Regions from separate parts of the Homo sapiens genome. Here region 1 is linked to region 2. The links come from fine-mapping of genetic effects on gene expression. Tissue or cell type: fibroblasts. Region 2 holds a variant in brackets; the other region holds the start of a gene. All regions are shown on one strand. Distances are from middle to middle.

Region 1 (8,177 bases), 61 kb before region 2:
CACGGTGGCTCACACCTGTAATTCCAGCACTTTGGGAGGCCGAGGTAGGTGGATCACCTGAGGTCAGGAGTTCGAGACTAGCCTGGCCAAGATGGTGAAACCCCATCTCTACTAAAAGTACAAAAATTAGCTGGGCGTGATGGGCGCCTGCAATCCCAGCTGCTGGGGAGGCTGAAGCAGGAGAATCGCTTCAACTCGGGAGGCGGAGGTTGCAGTGAGTCGAGATCATGCCATTGCACTCCAGCCTGGGCGACAAGAGCGAAACTCCGTCTCAAAAATAAAATAAAATAATAATAATAATAATATAGCTGCCATGGTAGACACTATCCTATGTTCTCTCTCTTAATCCTCAAGACAACCTAAGTAGGTTTTTGTTCCCTTCATTTTATAAATGAGAAAACCACCAAACCATCTCATGGCTTTTTCTGATGCAAACTGATTTCTAGTCTCACAAGGCCCGTGGAGCCCTCCAGGACCTGAAGATGAGTCAGCCGCGTGCCCCTACTCCTGCCCTACACACCTAACAGGGGTGGCAAATGCAGCCCTGAGTTGGGGGGCACTCAGCAGGGCCAGGAGCGGGGCGTGAGCCAGAGCTGTGGGTGCTGCAGGAGAGGCCCCAGCCCTGACCCCCATGGCACAGAGTCTCATCTTCATGCATTCAGTGCCCTGGCCCCCACCTCCTGACTGGGAAACTTCCAGGAGTGGCGGCACAGACCACACGTTTTCAAGCCAAGTCCTCCCTGGCCTTTGTTCTCCCTCCCAACTTTCTTTTAATCAGTCGGAAACGCTGCCCGGCTGCAGCCAGAGGCCAAGAAAGCCTTGGAGAAAACACAATCGTCTTTTCCTAACACCTCCTCCTCTCCACTCCCTCCCACCCAGCTCTCAGTAAAGCCCAACGGGACGGACAGACACAGGACAGACAGGCGGCTCCTCTCGGCCGTTTGGCAAGAAAGATCAGCGCCCTTCTCCATTTAAGCGGCCGTCGCCAAAGGAGTTTCTGCAGATCAGCTAACAGGCTCACCATCTGCGGCCCCACAGCTCTCTGAGAGCAGGGGCGGTGCCACTTGTGGCCTTACATACAGGGCTTCGGGGGCCTCACAGCTGCAGATAGGGGCCAGGCAGTCTTCAAAAGCCCCTTCCCAAACTGTACCAAATTAAACCTGTTGAAACTCAAAGAGACTTCTCCCCAAAAGAAACAAAAGGCCCACAGGACATCCAGCTGCTTTTATCGAAGTGTGCAATTAGGAGGCTTTTTTAAACCCTTCCAATTACAAACTTCTCTGTGGCTCAGCAGTGAGCCACACTGGGCCCGCAAGTCCTGGGGTGTTCATTCAGTCACACACACATAGGGAGAAATTGTTCGCAAACCGCAGACAGAAAAGAACAGTGAGAGGGAACGCAGAGACTCCGGGGCCAGGGAGAGTTTTACCACGCCTTCTCTCAGGCCCTCAGCTTCCTCATCGACACAATCGGGGCCTCTGAGGCTCCTTCCTTTTCTAACAGGAGTCTCGGATGTCCCACCCACCCATCACCCAGGGCCCCTCGGGGTTTTCCCTCCAGCTGGCAGCCACCCGGCCTGCTGCTTGCTGGAATGCCCTCTTCCCGCGCTCCCCTTACATCAAGCTCCATCTCTTCTAAAGAGCCTCCAGGGAGCCCCCAGGGGCTGCGAAGGCTCCTGGTGCCAACACTGAGCTCTGCGCCTCCCCACACCATCTCCAACCCCACGAGGTGCCCAGGCCGTGCCCAGCACCGCCTGAACAATCAGAGCTCCACAGGGCTCTGCTGCAGCCAGCCAGTCAAGAAAGCTCTGTAGAGCTCAGCTCCCAGCCTCCCCTCCCCCTCCAGCCCCCTTCAGCCCCCTTCCTGGAATCCCCCAGTGAGCATTAGTTGGGACAAGCGACCTTTTGACTAACAAAGGCGGTCACCAGAGGTTAAAAGGAACTCAACTAAACCAGGGATTAAGACTCGGATTCTGAGGGTGGTCTAGGGCACTCCCCTGGACCTGGGCCACTGGAGAAACAAAGACGCCAGGAGTGCCGGGCCTGGCTAGTGGCTCTGAGAAGCCACGGGTCAGCAGAGAGGTCACAGGTCATAGCTCTGCCGCCCAGCAGCTGCTCTGATCAGAGGACCTCGTGGCAGTCCCCCCAGGGACCAGGCCTTGAGGGTTAGAGGGGAGAAAAGCGCGGGCTGGGTGGGCACTGTCCCGGAGCTGTCAGTCCCAGAGTTGGGGCCTAAGGTCTGGGCCATCGATCAGATCTGCTCTTGGAAAACTCCATCCCCCTTGCCGTTGGTGGAAGTGACCAGTCCCCAGTCCCCGCTGAGCACCGAGCCCGGCAGAACCACTGCCTTGGGCCCTCTGTCCCGGGAGGGAGGCAGGGAGGAGGTGGCCAGGTCCGCATCCCCTCCATCCTCCCAGCTACGCCCCAAAAACCTCCAGGCTGCTCCCTGGCTTTCTCATTTCTTCCTCTCCAGCCCCTATCCCAGGACCGCTAGTGTCTCCTGGGGAAAAGACTGCTTCCCACCCTCCAGGCTCAAGTTTCACATCCGCAAGCTGGGTACAACAGCTCCTACCTGGGGGTGGAGGCGGGAAGCGGTGAGGAAAGATAGCCGAGGGCGCTTCCAGCGTCAAGTGCAAGGCGCCCTGGGCTCGGTAACCCCCAGCCAGCGTCCCCCAGCCCAGCTAGCGCCCCTGAACCCCCAGGGCCCGGGATGCGGCCCCCGGAGCCGGCTGGATTTGCTAGGACTGGGGTAGGACGGTGTGTTTGAGGGGTGGGGGAATCCGGTTTTGAAACAAGTCCCCAGGCCGGGGAGGAGATGAGGACCGGAGCTGGCCGTGGGGGAGGGGGGCGTCGCCGAGGCCTCGGCGCTGACAGTCCGGGGGCGCCGCGCAGGGCAACGCACGGACTCCGAGTCCCCGTGGTTCCGAAACTCGCAGGGAGCGCGAGGCCGAGGGGGTCGGGACCCTAAGCTGGGGCGGCGGACCCGGGACGCCCCTACCTCCGGCCGCCAGCAGCGCAAGGCCGCCGAGCAGCAGCAGCGGAAGCGGGACCCGGCGCGACGGCGCGGCGCGCTCCATGGGCGGCGGGCGACGGGCGGTGGGCGGCGGCGGACAAAGGCGCGGGCGCGGTCCTGGGGCAGCGGCGCGGGCTCCACGCTCCGGCCGAGCCTCGGCAGCCAACGCTGGGCCAGGGCCGCGCCGTTCAATTATCCCGCCCGGGAGGAGGGCGCGGCGGAGGCGGGGCCGCGGGTCTCCTGGTCCTCCCTCCCCGGCGCCCCCTGCCGGGACCCTCCCTCCCCGGACCCCGGCTGCGAGGGGCGCGCGCCCACGGCTGGGGGCGAGGGCCTGGATCCCAGACTTCCCCGGAGGGGGCACAGAGGGGGCGCCTTCGGGCCGGATGCCCCCAGTCCTATCCCCCAACACTCCGTGAAACCCGATCCCCTCCTCCCCCCACCCCCTCTCGAGGGGAGGGCTCGGGATCAAAGGTTATCCCCGCCCGACTCCGCGCGGAGGAGCGGGGACCCGGGCCTGCAGTCGGAGGCCCGGCTGCTGGGGGGCACTGGGGCAGGCCTTACCGCCAACCCCGCACCCTCGGCCGGGAGGCTGCAGGTCGGTGGCTAACCCCAGGCGTGTCCCGGGATGGGACCCGACTCTGCCCTCAGAGACAGGGACAGTCGGGCCAGGCCAACAAACAACCAAAATCCCAACGTGTGCTGGGCTCACCCGGGACACCAGGGCCGGAGGGAGAGACCCGGGAAGTCACCGAGGCTGCAGGGGAGGCAGCTTTGGCGCTGGGCCTGCGGGAGCCTCTTGTATAGGAATTCATAGCTACCGGGGTTACTGAGGATGAGTTAGGCTTTGGAACCACAAGTAGATTTATTTTCCAAAGAAGAAGAATAAAATGGTGCAGGTGAAGATGCGGAGGAACTGGATGAGACGCATAGGAACGCCACTGGGCAGCTCAAAGCGGTGTTCCTGTGAGTTCACCATGGACCCCTTGAGCCACCGACGCCCCGCCCAGCCTTACACTCAGCAGAAACGCATACAACATGTGCTCCAAAAGACAGAAAGACATGTAGCCGCACATTCATAATTCCTCCAATTGGGAAGCCTAGCGTCATCAAGGCAGATGAATATCGTGGAGTATTCGGGCTTAGGAGCACGACAAACGGAACAGGAGTGAATGATCCGCAACTCACATAACGGGTAAATCTCACAGACGTAAGTCAGAGTAATAGAGTCAGCCACAAAGGAACACTCGCTGCATGATTCCATTTACATAAAAGGCAAGAACAGGCCGGTGGCGGTGGCTCACACCTGTAATCCCAGCACTTTGGGAGGATGAAGTGGGCGGATTGCCTGAGGTCAGGAGTTCGAAACCAGCCTGGCCAACATGGTGAAACCCTGTCTCTACTAAAAATAAAAATAAAAATAAATTAGCCAGGCATGGTGGTGCACACCTGTAGTCCCAGCTACTCGGGAGGCTGAGGCAGGAGAATCGCCTGAACCCGGGAGACGGAGGTTGCAGTGAGCCGAGATCTCACCACTGCACTCCAGCCTGGGCGGCGGAGTGAGACTCCGTCTCAAAAAAAAAAAAAAAAAAAAAAAAAGGCAAGAACAGTTCAGAGGTCAGGAGAGTGGTGATCCTGGAGTGGGAGCGTGCTGGGCTTTCGGGGGCTGGTTAGGTTCAGCTTTCTTACTCTGGGTATTGGTTACAAGGTTGGGCTCAGTTTGTGAGAATTTATTGAGCTGTTCATTTATGGTACGTGCCCTTTTCTGAATACATGTTGTTTCTTTCTGTTTTTTTGAGATGGTGTTTTGCTTTTGTTGCCCAGGCTGGAGTGCAGTGGCGCAATCTCAGCCCACTGCAACCTCCACCTCCCGGGTTCAAGCGATTCTCCTGCCTCAGCCTCCTGAGTAGCTGGGACTACAGGCATGCACCACCACGCCTGGCAAATTTTGTATTTTTAGTAGAGACGGGGTTTCTCCGTGTTGGTCAGGCTGGTCTTGAACTCCCGACATCAGGTGATCCACCCGCCTTGTCCTCCCAAAGTGCTGAGATTACAGGCGTGAGTCACCGTGCCCGGTCACATGTTAAATTTTAAAATGAAAAACAAAAGGACAAGAACTCATCTCCCCACAGGGTGTCTTATAAGTTTGAAGTTTGCAGAGAGCCCAGGAAAGCTTACCAAGGGGACCAGCATGCTCACGCCTCTGAGGTTAAGGAGGCCCCTCAGGAAGAGGTGACATGCGACTGGCCAGTGAAAGGTGAGCAGAGGTGGGAAGGGTTTCCTTGGTGGTGCCAGCTTTCCTGATGTCTCTGCAAAAGTTTGGAGGCACCAGAGATCCTGGTCCGTTTTGACTTTGGATGGGGTGGGGTGCGGAAACAGCACATCAGCAGATGGCCCGAGGGAGGCATTTCTGAGTTGGAACAGGTTGGGAACTCATTACTACTTTGGTATTAACTTAATTCGTTTAAGCCATCGGAGAATGGGGTGCCCTGGAAGGAGTCTAGATGACTAAGGGAAGGTGGTGGAGGGCGAAGGGGGAACCAGGGGACCTGGGGGATTCAGAAAGAAGACGTAGAAACAGGCAGAGGGGTAGAAGGAAACCAGGAGAAGGCAATATCCAAGAAGGAATCAAAAAGTGATTCTGGGCAGGGCGTGGTGGCTCATGCCTGTAATCCCAACACTATGGGAGGCCGAGGTGGGTGGATCACTTGAGGTCAGGGGTTCGAGACCAACCTGGCCAATATGATGAAACCCCATCTCCACTAAAAATACAAAAATTAGCTGGGCATCGTGGTGCATGCCTGTAGTCCCAGCTACTTGGGAGACTGAGGCAGGAGAGTTGCTTGAACCCTGAAGGCGGAGGTTGCAGTGAGCCAAGATTGTACCACTGCACTCCAGCCTGGGTGATAGCAAAAAAAAAGTGATTCTGGCTGGGACTGCCCAGTGTGGCCCAGTGCTCAGTGAAGCCAGGACTGAGAAGTCCCAATGGGGATGGAGCAGGTGGCCGCTGGCGATGTGACCGGGGCCCTTTCTGGGGATGGGGAGGGAGTGGCTGTGTTGTGGGTGGCTGAGAAGGGGGTGGGGATGAGGAAACAGGGACAGTAGGAGGAGGTGACTCCTACATTCAGCTAGGCACTGACACTGCCCTAGGCAGGCAGAGGGACTGCTGGGAGGAGGAGGGCTGAGCCAAGCCTGCAACAGCTGGGGAGGGAGGCCAGAGCCAGGAGAGAGGACATGGAAACCTGGCCTCTCCCAGCCTTTCCTGAAGCTTCAAGAGCTTACTCCTGTTCTGAGGCACAGCCCCCACCATTTTTTTTTTTTTTTTTTTTTTTTGAGGCAAGTCTCACACTGTCACCCAGGCTGGAGTGCAATGCCACGATCTTGGCTCACTGCAACCTCTGTCTGCCGGGTTCACGCAATTGTCCTGCCTCAGGCTCGGGGGTAGCTGGGATTACAGGCACACACCATCAAACCCAGCTAATTTTTTGTATTTTTAGTAGAGACGGGGTTTCACTGTGTTGGTCAAACTGGTCTCGAACTCCTGACCTTGTGATCCGCCTGCCTCAGCCTCCCAAAGTGCTAGGATTACAGGCGTGAGCCGTGGCGCCCAGCCAAGGCGCCCCCTTTTTAGGCACTCACTCTAGTCCTCATCCCAGGCCTGTCCTCCATGGCCTCTCCACATCCTCTTGTCCCTGTGGCTGGTGACTTGGAAAGCCAGGCACTGGGTGTCAGGGAAGTAGGCACCACCATGGACCCCTATCCCCCAGGACAAGCTAGAGGTCCTGACAGCCTGGGACAGGGTCTGAGGCCAGACCACCTGGGTTCCAATCCAAGCTCGCTACTCTCTGGCTCTGTGGCATTGAGCATTTGACTTCTTGGTACCTTGTTTCCTCATCTGTCACGTGGGGCAAGGATTAGGACTTTGCACTTTGCACGGTCGTGAGAATTGAAGGAGATGCTGACTCTCATCACATAAGCCCCACAGAGAAAACTCTGTAATGTAATCACTGTCAGCTGCTGTGCTGGTGGTGACAGTGATGTGCCTTCAGGACCACACAGGGGAGCACCAGTCCTGACCCCCTCCTCATTCACTGTCTGGCTCTGGGCAAGTCCCTTTCTGGGCCTCAGTTTCCCTATCTGCAAAATGCAGGAGATGGACCAGGATGCTTCTAAGCATGCTTCAGACCCCAAAACCCAGGCTGACTCTCGGCCCCCTTCTCTAGTTCTCAGCACATCCAGCTTCCAGAGGCCCACTGGAAGATCATAGGCCTGAGATTCTTGCAGTCCAGGTGAGCCACACCCAGGTGCTGGGAGAAGAACCCATCATGGGCACGGGCATTCCTGCACATTCTTGCTGAGTATGCCACAAATGCAAAGCCCTGGTCACTCTGTACCCGTGTCTCAGGGTCGTGTTTGCAAAAAGCAACCTCAAAGGAGGAGGTACCATCTCCCTCTGGACAAGTTTACCGGAAAATCGGTAAATTCCCCAAACTCAGTGTTCTCCTGTGTAATGCAGCCCATTGTGTGTGCAGGCATCCACCATCCATGATGGGCCCTTGACCTCGCCCACTCCACACCGACCCTAGGACTTGGAAGACACAAGGAACTCATGTGAACACCATGCTTAAACTGCAGCTATTATTTTACTGCAACTAATAAAGTCCCTGTCTCTGACCCAGGAGTCTCAGAACTGGAGATTGGCAGTGCCTCTATTTGAATGGAGGTCATCTGACTCCCTTTGTATCTTGGGTTCTGTTTTTCAATAAAAATTATAGCATTGTAACATTTCCCTGTCTTATTAGAAATCTCCATTACATATCCAGTGAGTGGATATGTTTAGAAGTCGCATACACATTTACTTAACCACTCACTCTCTTATTAGGGGACATTTTCGTCATTTAAACTTTGCAGCGTTAGAAATGATGCTGCCGTGAAACCTGTGCGCTCCAGGTTCAGCTGTACCTCTGCGGCTCCCAGCAGGAATGGCCTAGAAGAGTAAGTGCTGCACCAAGAAACTGACAAATTCACAATCCAGAGAGAGACACAGCAGCTGTGAGTCTCTCCACTTCCAGCCAGCATTGTGTCACCTCGTTGTTTAATCTGAGCTATTTCCACAGGGAAAAGAAACTCTTATCTTCTTTCAAAGTATGTTTTTAATCATCAGAGAG
Region 2 (8,177 bases):
AACAAATATGGCATGATCTCGGCTCACGGCAACCTCTGTCTCCCAGGTTCAAGCAATTCTCCTGGCTCAGCCTCCCGAGTAGTTGGGATTACAGGTGCCAGCCACCATGCCCACCTAATTTTTTTTTTTTTTTGTATTTTTAGTAGAGATGGGGTTTCACTATGTTGGCCAGGCTGGTCTCGAACTCCTGACCTCAGATGATCCACCCACCTCGGCCTCCCAAAGTGTTGGGATTACAGGCGTGAGCCACCGTGGCTGGCCAGATTTGTTTTATATTTTGAAGTCTTACCAACAGGATTTGCTGATAGATTGAGAGAGAGAGAGCCCAACGATGGATCCAAACTCTCTGGCCTGAGCAATTGGAAGCATTGGGGTTTCCATAGCCTAAGACAGGGAAGACTTTGGAGGGACAGGTGTGGGTAGAGGGAAACCAGTTCTGTTCAGATGCCTTCATGTTGACTGCCTGCTTGTTAGACATCCCAGTAAAGCTATCAAGTCGACATTTGGGTACCAAGCCTGGAACTCACAGCAGAGGTCAAGCTAGAGAAATACACTAGAGTGTTGTCACCTGTCTTCCCCTCCTGGAGCTCTGCTGACTGTCTCCTTGCAGGCATTCTGTCAGAGGTAGCTGGGACTTTAGAACTGGGCACAATTCCTGGCTCCATCTTGAACTGGCTCTGGGACCTTGGGAAAGTGAGTTCCCCTCTCTAGCCCTTAGTTCTTGTGAAAGGAAAATCGCAGGACTCCAAAATCGCAAAGTCAAGGGGAAAAGTCAAGCTGGGAACTGCATCACGCAAACTTGCCTCCCATTTTCTTCCTAGATAAGATAGCTACAAAGATAAACAAGCTGCATACCTCCCTCCCAATTTGCCCACAAGGAAATTCCTTGTGGGCCTCAGGATCTTTACCCTAAAACAGTTCTGTTGAATTTCACCCTGGCAATGTAAATTGATAGCTTATCTTCACAGATGTGGGACAAAGGACAGAACTCACCATCAGGCCTCTGCCCACCTGAGACAAATGCATATATGATTGCTTGATTGCTTCCTCTGCCCTATTGTTTATGTGAAAATGCAGATTCACTGAGCCAGACTAGGGCACACAGGACTACTCCTCTACCCTCTGCTCACATGGAAATTGTGTATTCAGTGAAAGGCTGATCAAAGACTCAAAAGGATGCACCCATTTATCTTTTATATGCCTATGACCTGGAAATCCCTGCTTCCAGTTGTCCTGCGTTTCCAAACTGAAGCAATGTACATCTTACACATATTGATTCATGCCTCATGTCTCCCAAAAATGTGTAAAAGCAAGCTATACCACAACCTCCTTGGGCACATGTCAGCAGGACCTCCTGAGGCTGTGTCACAGACACGTCCTTAACCTTGGCAAAATAAACTTTCTTTCCTTTTTTTTTTTTTTGGGAGACAGAGTTTCGCTCTTGTTGCCCAGGCTGGAGTGCAGTGGCATGATCTTGGCTCACTGCAACCTCTGCCTCCCAGGTTCAAGTGATTCTCCTGCCTCAGCCTCCCAAGTAGCTGGGACTACAGGCACCTGCCACCATGCCCAGCTAATTTTGTCTTTTTAGTAGAGACGAGGTTTCACCATGTTGGCCAGGCTGGTCTTGAACTCGTAACCTCAGGTGATCTGCCTGCCTCAGCCTCCCAAAGTGCTGGGATTACAGGCACGAGCCACCAAGCCCAGGTACAAAATAAACTTTCTAAATGGATTGAGACTTGTCTTAGGTACTTTGTGTTCACATTCCTCATCCTCATTGGGGATATGAAACTGGTAACACTTCTTGTAGCCTCCTGCAGGTTTTTTTTTTTTTTTTTTTTTGAGACGGAGTTTTGCTCTTGTTGCCCAGGCTGGAGTGCAAAGGTGCAATCTCAGCTTACCGCAACCTCCGCCTCCTGGGTTCAAGCAATTCTCCTGCCTCAGCCTCCCGAGTAGCTGGAATTACAGGCATGCTCCACTACACCTGGCTAATTTTGTATTTTTAGTAGAGATGGGGTTTCTCTATGTTGGTCAGGCTGGTCTCGAACTCCTGACCTCAGGTGATCTACCCGCCTCGGCCTCCCAAAAGTGCTGGGATCACAGGCGTGAGCCATCGCACCCGGCAGCCTCCTGCAGATTTTAAGAAGCTCAGCTCTGTGGCATCAGCACACACGGGCTCAGCAAGCAGCAGCCATGTACACCATCAGCATATTTTGCTGGACATGTTTATTGGTGCTGCAAGCCCACCGCCCTTTTTGCCTCTGAATATACTATGAGCCGACTCTCCCCATGCGAGGATGGGGCCAGGGAGTGGGCCTTGACCTAGGGACTGTCCATCTGAAAAGACGACCAGGTCCCATAGGCCCCCTGGTCACGAATTTGAGCTGGGAATGAGGAGGCTGGGCCAGTGGGGCTGGGAGGGGTGGCAGTGCTGGAACTGAAAGGCCGTTTTAGGGCCAGTTACCAGATGGGCAGCTGAGGACACTGAGTGGCTTTGGGTGAGAGACTCTGTGGCTGAGTCCTGTCCTCAGGCTCTGCCAGGTTCCAAGGGATATCCAGGTAACAAAGTCACATTTGTCAGCTCCAGAGCCCCGGGGAAAACCTTCAGGGGCGATTAATTCACAGATCAGCCTGGTGTGGAGGAGATGGCCCTACCCACTTTTTTCTTCAATAGGCTCTGGAATGTTCTATCCCCAACAATTGTGGACAATGAGGCTGGAGTCTTTTCTGACACTGTTAGAACAAGTGTGTTTGGAGAGCTTTCTGGAACGTCTGGTGAAAAGAAAAGACCCACTGACTCGCAGACATTCCATCTGCCCTCATTCCCATTCCTGTTTACTTCTGGGGGCCATGCTGGGGGTTGGCCCCAGGGACTTTGGATTCATCTTTCATTCGCTGGAAGAAGAAAGGAAGGCAGACCTTCCAGACTCAGTAGATGAAACTGACTTTGCCAGGTCTGGGCAGAGAGCAAGTGAGGTTCGAAGATGGGGGAGCATGAATCTGGGGGTGGGCTGGATGAGGTGGTGGGTGGGGGAGGATCAAGGCCTTTACTTGGTCGGGGCAAGCACAGATGAAGCCCCACCTGGCAACTACCTACTCTGTGTCACTCACAGCCTCATTCTCACTCGGCATCCTCCAGCTTCTTTTCACCACTCTCTTAACATCACGTGGGCACAATCCATATGGTTGAAAAGATGCCTCTTGCTGGGCGCGGTGGCTCATGCCTGTAATCCCAGCACTTTGGGAGGCCGAGTCAGGTGGATCACGAGGTCAGGAGATCAAGACCATTGTGGCTAACGCGGTGAAACCCCGTCTCTACTAAAAATACAAAAAATTAGCTGGGTGTGGTGGTATGCGCCTGTAGTCCCAGCTACTTGGGAGGCTGAGGCAGAGGCAGGAGAATCGCTTGAACCCGGGAGGCGGAGGTTGCAGTGAGCCGAGATCGCACCACTGCACTCCAGCCTGGGTGGTGACAGAGCAAGACTCTGTCCCAAAAAAAAAAAAAAAAAAGAAAAGAAAAGAAAAGAAAAGGAAACATGTCTCTTTGGAAAAGGTGCTCTAGAGGCCCCTGCTCCATCCCCAACCTTCACCCCATGATCCCTCCTGTAACCAGGCTCAGGACGCTGCTCCACCCAGGAGCATGGGGACCTGTCACCTCATTGCACCAACATTCCAAAGTGGCTGTCGCTTCTGCAGAGGGAGACCCGGTGCAGGTGGAAACCAGATGGCCAGAGGCTATGCTGGGAGCACGAGAGATAGATGTGCCACCTGCTGGTGGACAGCTCTCCAGTAGACAGCAACAGCTCACTGCACATGAGAGAAGAGAGACAGACTCTCTCATATTGTTTTATCTTGTTTTATACTCAGAAAAGGAAAGAAAAGCGAAACGAAATGCAGGTAGCCCGGCGCCTAGGAACCAGACCCGAAACCAGGCCTGGGCCTGCCTGACCTAATCCTGGTAGTTAAAGATCGACCCTGACCTAACCGGTTATGTTATCTATAGATTCCAGACTTTGTATGGAAAGGCATTGCAAAAATCCC[TG/G]TCCTGTTCTGTTTCCTTCTGATTACCGGTGCATGCAGCCCCCAGTCATGTACCCCCTGCTTGCTCAATCGATCACGACCCTCTCGCGCGGACCCCCTTAGAGTTGTGAGCCCTTAAAAGGGACAGGAATTGCTCACTGGGGGAGCTCGGCTCTTGAGACAGGAGTCTTACCTGATGCTCCCGGCCGAAAGAACCACTTCCTTCTTTAACTCAGTGTCTGAGGAGTTTTGTCTGCGGCTCGTCCTGCTGCATGCATAACAGATGGTACCCGGTTTCTTAGGGGTCCTCCCTTTGCAGTCCTGTCAGGGGTAGGAGTGTGGTTGGGTTTTCTTTTTCTGTCCGTTTCCATCACTCCAAAAAGTAGCCTCATGCCTGTTTGCCATCAAACCCCCTCACCCTGTCCCAGGCAAGCACTGATGGAATAGTTATCCCAATTCTGGAACTCCCCATAGATAGAATTGTAAACTGTGAACTCCTTTGTATCTGTTACAATGTTTCTGATTATGATTTTTTTTTTTGAGACAGAATTTCGCTCTTGTCACCCAGGCTGGAGGGCAGTGGTGCGATCTTGGCTCACTGTAACCTCTGCCTCCCGGGTTCAAGCAATTCTCCTGCCTCAGCCTCCCAAGTAGCTGGTATTACAGGAACACCCCCCACCCCACCCCTCACCACCATGCCCAGCTAATTTTTTATTTTTATTTTTTATTTCATTTATTTATTTTTTTGAGATGGAGTCTTGCTCTGTTGCCCAGGCTGTAGCGCAGTGGCGTAATCTTGGCTCACTGCAACGTCCACCTCCCGGGTTCAAGCAATTCTCATGCCTCAGCCTCCTGAGTAGCTGGGAGTACAGGCACATGCCACCACGCCCGGCTAATTTTTTGTGTTTTTAGTAGCGATGGGGTTTCACCATGTTAGCCAGGTTGGTCTTGATCTCCTGACCTCGTGATCTGCCCCCTTGGCCTCCCAAAGTGCTGGGATTACAGGCCTGAGCCACTGCGCCCCGCCCTGATTATGATTTCTGATTCTGCCGTTTTGACGGGTATATCAGCAGTTTGTTTCTTTTCAGCTGTGAGTGATAGGAATATAACTTTTGTTTATCTGATCACCTGTTGATAGATATTTTGGTTGATCCAAGTTTGGTGCTATCATGAATAAAGATGCTATAAACATTTCTGTAAAGGTCTTTTTGTGATTTTTTGCTTGTTTTTTTGAGACAGAGTCTCACTCTGTACCCGAGGCTGGAATGAAGTGGCATGATCTCAGCTCACTGCAACATCCACCTCCCTGGTTCAAGTGATTCTCATGCCTCTGCCTCCTGAGTAGCTAGGACTACAGGTGTGCACCTCCACACCTGGCTAATTTTTGTATTTTTAGTAGAGTCAGGGTTTCACCATGTTGGCCAGGCTGGTCTCAAACTCCTGACCTCAGGTAATCCACCTGCCTCAGCCTCCCAAAGTTCTGAGATTACAGGCATGAGCCACTGTACCCGGCCTAAAATTTTTTAAATTTTTTGTAGAGACGAGGTCTCGCTATGTTGACCAGGCTGGTCCTGAACTCCTGACCTCGTGATCCACCTGCTTCGGTGTCCCAAAGTGCTGGGATTACAGGCGTGAGCTACCGCACCTGGCCTTATTTTTATGTTATTTATTTATTTTTATTTTTTATTTTTTGAGATGGAGTCTCACTCTGTTGCCCAGGCTGGAGTGCAGTGGCATGATTTCGGCTCACTGCAATCTCCACCTCCCAGGTTCATGCCATTCTCCTGCCTTAGCCCCCTGAGTAGCTGGGACAATAGGCACCCGACACCATGCCCGGCTAATTTTTTTGTATTTGTAGTAGAGATGGGGTTTCACCGTGTTAGCCAGGATGGTCTCAATCTCCTGACCTCGTGATCTGCCCACCTTGGCCTCCCAAAGTGCTGGGATTACAGGCGCGAGCCACAGCACCTGGCCTTATTTTTATTTTTGTAGACAGAGTCTTGCTGTGTTGCCCAGGTTGGAGTACAGTGGTGTGACCTCAGCTCACTGCAACCTCCGCTTCCCGGGCTCAAGAGATTCTCCTGCCTCAGCCTCCTGAGTAGCTGGGATTACAGGTGCGCACCATCATGCCTGGCTAGTTTGTATTTTTAGTAGAGACAGGGTTTCACCATGTTGGCCAGGCTGGTCTCAAACTCCTGACCTCAGGTCATCTTCCCACTTCGACCTCCCAAAGTGCTGGGATTACAGGCATGAGCCACCGTGCCTGGCCCCCTTCCCATTATTCTAAACATAAGAACTTGAACACAGAATAAAGAACCATGTGCAAATGACTCTATTTTTCTTCCTGTTTATCTTATGGCTTCATTTTAAAATGAATAGGCTATCTTTTAGAACAGTGTTAGGTTTACAAGAAAATTGAGTAACAAGTATAGAGGGTTCCCATATGCTCCCTTCCCATAGGCCCCTAGTTCCCCTATTATTAATGTCTCATGTTAGTGTGGTACATTTGTTACAATTGACTAGCCAACATTGACACATCATCATCACCCAGAGTTTATAATTTACATTAGGGGTCACCCTGTGTACATTCTGTGGATTTTGACAAATGTATAATGACATATACCCAAGGTTACAGCATCACACAGCAAAGTTTCACTGCCCTAAAAATCCTTGTGCTCTCTCTGCCTATTCATCCCTCCCTCCCCTCAGTCCCTGGCAACCACTGATGTTTTTACTGTTTCTATAGCTTTGCCTTTTTTGAAAAGTCAGGCTGGGTGCAGTGGCTCATGCCGTAATCCCAACACTTTGGGAGGCCAAGGTGGGTGGATCATCTGAGGTCAGGAGTTCAATACCAGCCTGGCCAACACAGTGAAACCCAACTCTACTAAAAATACAAAAATTAGACGGGCGTGGTGGTGCACGCCTGTAGTCCCAGCTACTTGGGAGGCTGAGGCAGGAGAATCGCTTGAACCTGGGAGGCGGAGGTTTCAGTGAGCCAAGACGGTGCCACTGCGCTCCAGGCTAGGCAACAGAGGGAGACTCCTCAAAAAAAAAAAAAAGTCATATGATTGGACTCATACAGTAGATAACCTTTGCAGATTGACTTCTTTCACCAAGCAATATGCATTTAAGCTTCTTCCACATTTTCTTGTGGCTTGATAGCTCTTTTCTTATTATTATATCTTATATTAATAAGACTCCATTGTCTGGAGGTACCACAGTGTTTTTATCCATTAACTTATTGAAGAACACGTTGCTTGCTTCCCGGTTTTGGCAATTATGAATACAGCTCCTGTAGACACCCATGTGCCAGACACAAGTGTGGACATACGTCATTTGGGCAAATACAAATGGCTTTTGAACGCTATTATTATAATTTTTCTGTGCTGTTTTGTTTTAGATGTGCCTTTTGTAAGTGGCGTATATATAACTAGAATTTTTAAAAGCCAGTCTGTGGAGAGCTAGTGTGTCCAGAACTGGTGGGTTCTTGGACTTCAAGAATGAAGCCGGGAACCCTCGCGGTGAGTGTTACAGCTCTTAAGGTGGCGCGTCTGGAGTTTGTTCCTTCTGATGTTCGGATGTGTTCGGAGTTTCTTCCTTCTGGTGGGTTTGTGGTCTCGCTTGCTCAGGAGTGAAGCTGCAGATCTTCGCGGTGAAGCAGTGTGGACCCAGAGAGTGAGCAGTAGCAAGATTTATTGCAAAGAGCAAAAGAACAAAGCTCCCACAGAGTGGAAGGGAACCCGAGCGGGTTACCACTGCTGGCTTGGGCAGCCTGCTTTTATTCTCTTATCTGGCCCCACCCACATCCTGCTGATTGGTAGAGCCCAGTGGCCTGTTTTGACAGGGCGCTGATTGGTGCGTTTACAATCCCTGAGCTAGATACAAAGGTTCTCCACGTCCCCATCAGACTCAGGAGCCCAGCTGGCTTCATCCAGTGGATTCCGCACCGGGGCTGCAGGTGGAGCTGCCTGCTAGTCCCGCGCCGTGCGCTCGCACTCCTCAGCCCTTGGGCGGTCGATGGGACTGGGCGCCGTGGAGCACGGGGCGGCGCTCGTCGGGGAGGCTTGGGCCGCACAGGAGCTCATGGAGGGGGTGGGAGGCTCAGGCATGGCGGGCTGCAGGTCCCGAGCCCTGCCCCGCGGGAAGGCAGCTAAGGCCCG

Direction of the effects. Alleles are on the strand shown, and positions count from the first base shown. SD is a standard deviation of normalised expression in the study named.
For the expression in fibroblasts of the gene that starts at base 3,179 in region 1, TG is the high allele of the variant in region 2 and G is the other (small effect, 0.12 SD a copy in GTEx).

What was found. PIP is the estimated chance that this variant, and not a neighbour inherited with it, causes the effect.
Region 1: it holds the start of FBLN1, and the variant in region 2 is fine-mapped to the expression of FBLN1 in fibroblasts (GTEx, PIP 0.94).

What each region holds. Positions count from the first base shown.
Region 1 is chr22:45,497,885-45,506,061 of GRCh38, reverse strand. It overlaps FBLN1 (fibulin 1), which reads right to left and starts at 3,179. Exons shown (of 17, transcript NM_006486.3): 1 at 2,998-3,179. The coding sequence starts at 3,076. LOC105373066 (a long non-coding RNA gene) reads left to right here and starts at 5,075. Exons shown (of 3, transcript XR_938305.2): 1 at 5,075-5,266; 2 at 7,233-7,298; 3 at 7,542-7,792. RefSeq lists enhancers at 1-109, 110-723, 724-1,337, 1,338-1,951, 1,952-2,565 and 1 more.
Region 2 is chr22:45,436,944-45,445,120 of GRCh38, reverse strand. No RefSeq gene overlaps it. Among named protein-coding and RNA genes, the nearest start is that of RIBC2, 27 kb to the right of the region's middle. RefSeq lists an enhancer at 2,208-2,770. The variant TG/G (reference allele first, on the strand shown) is at 4,039.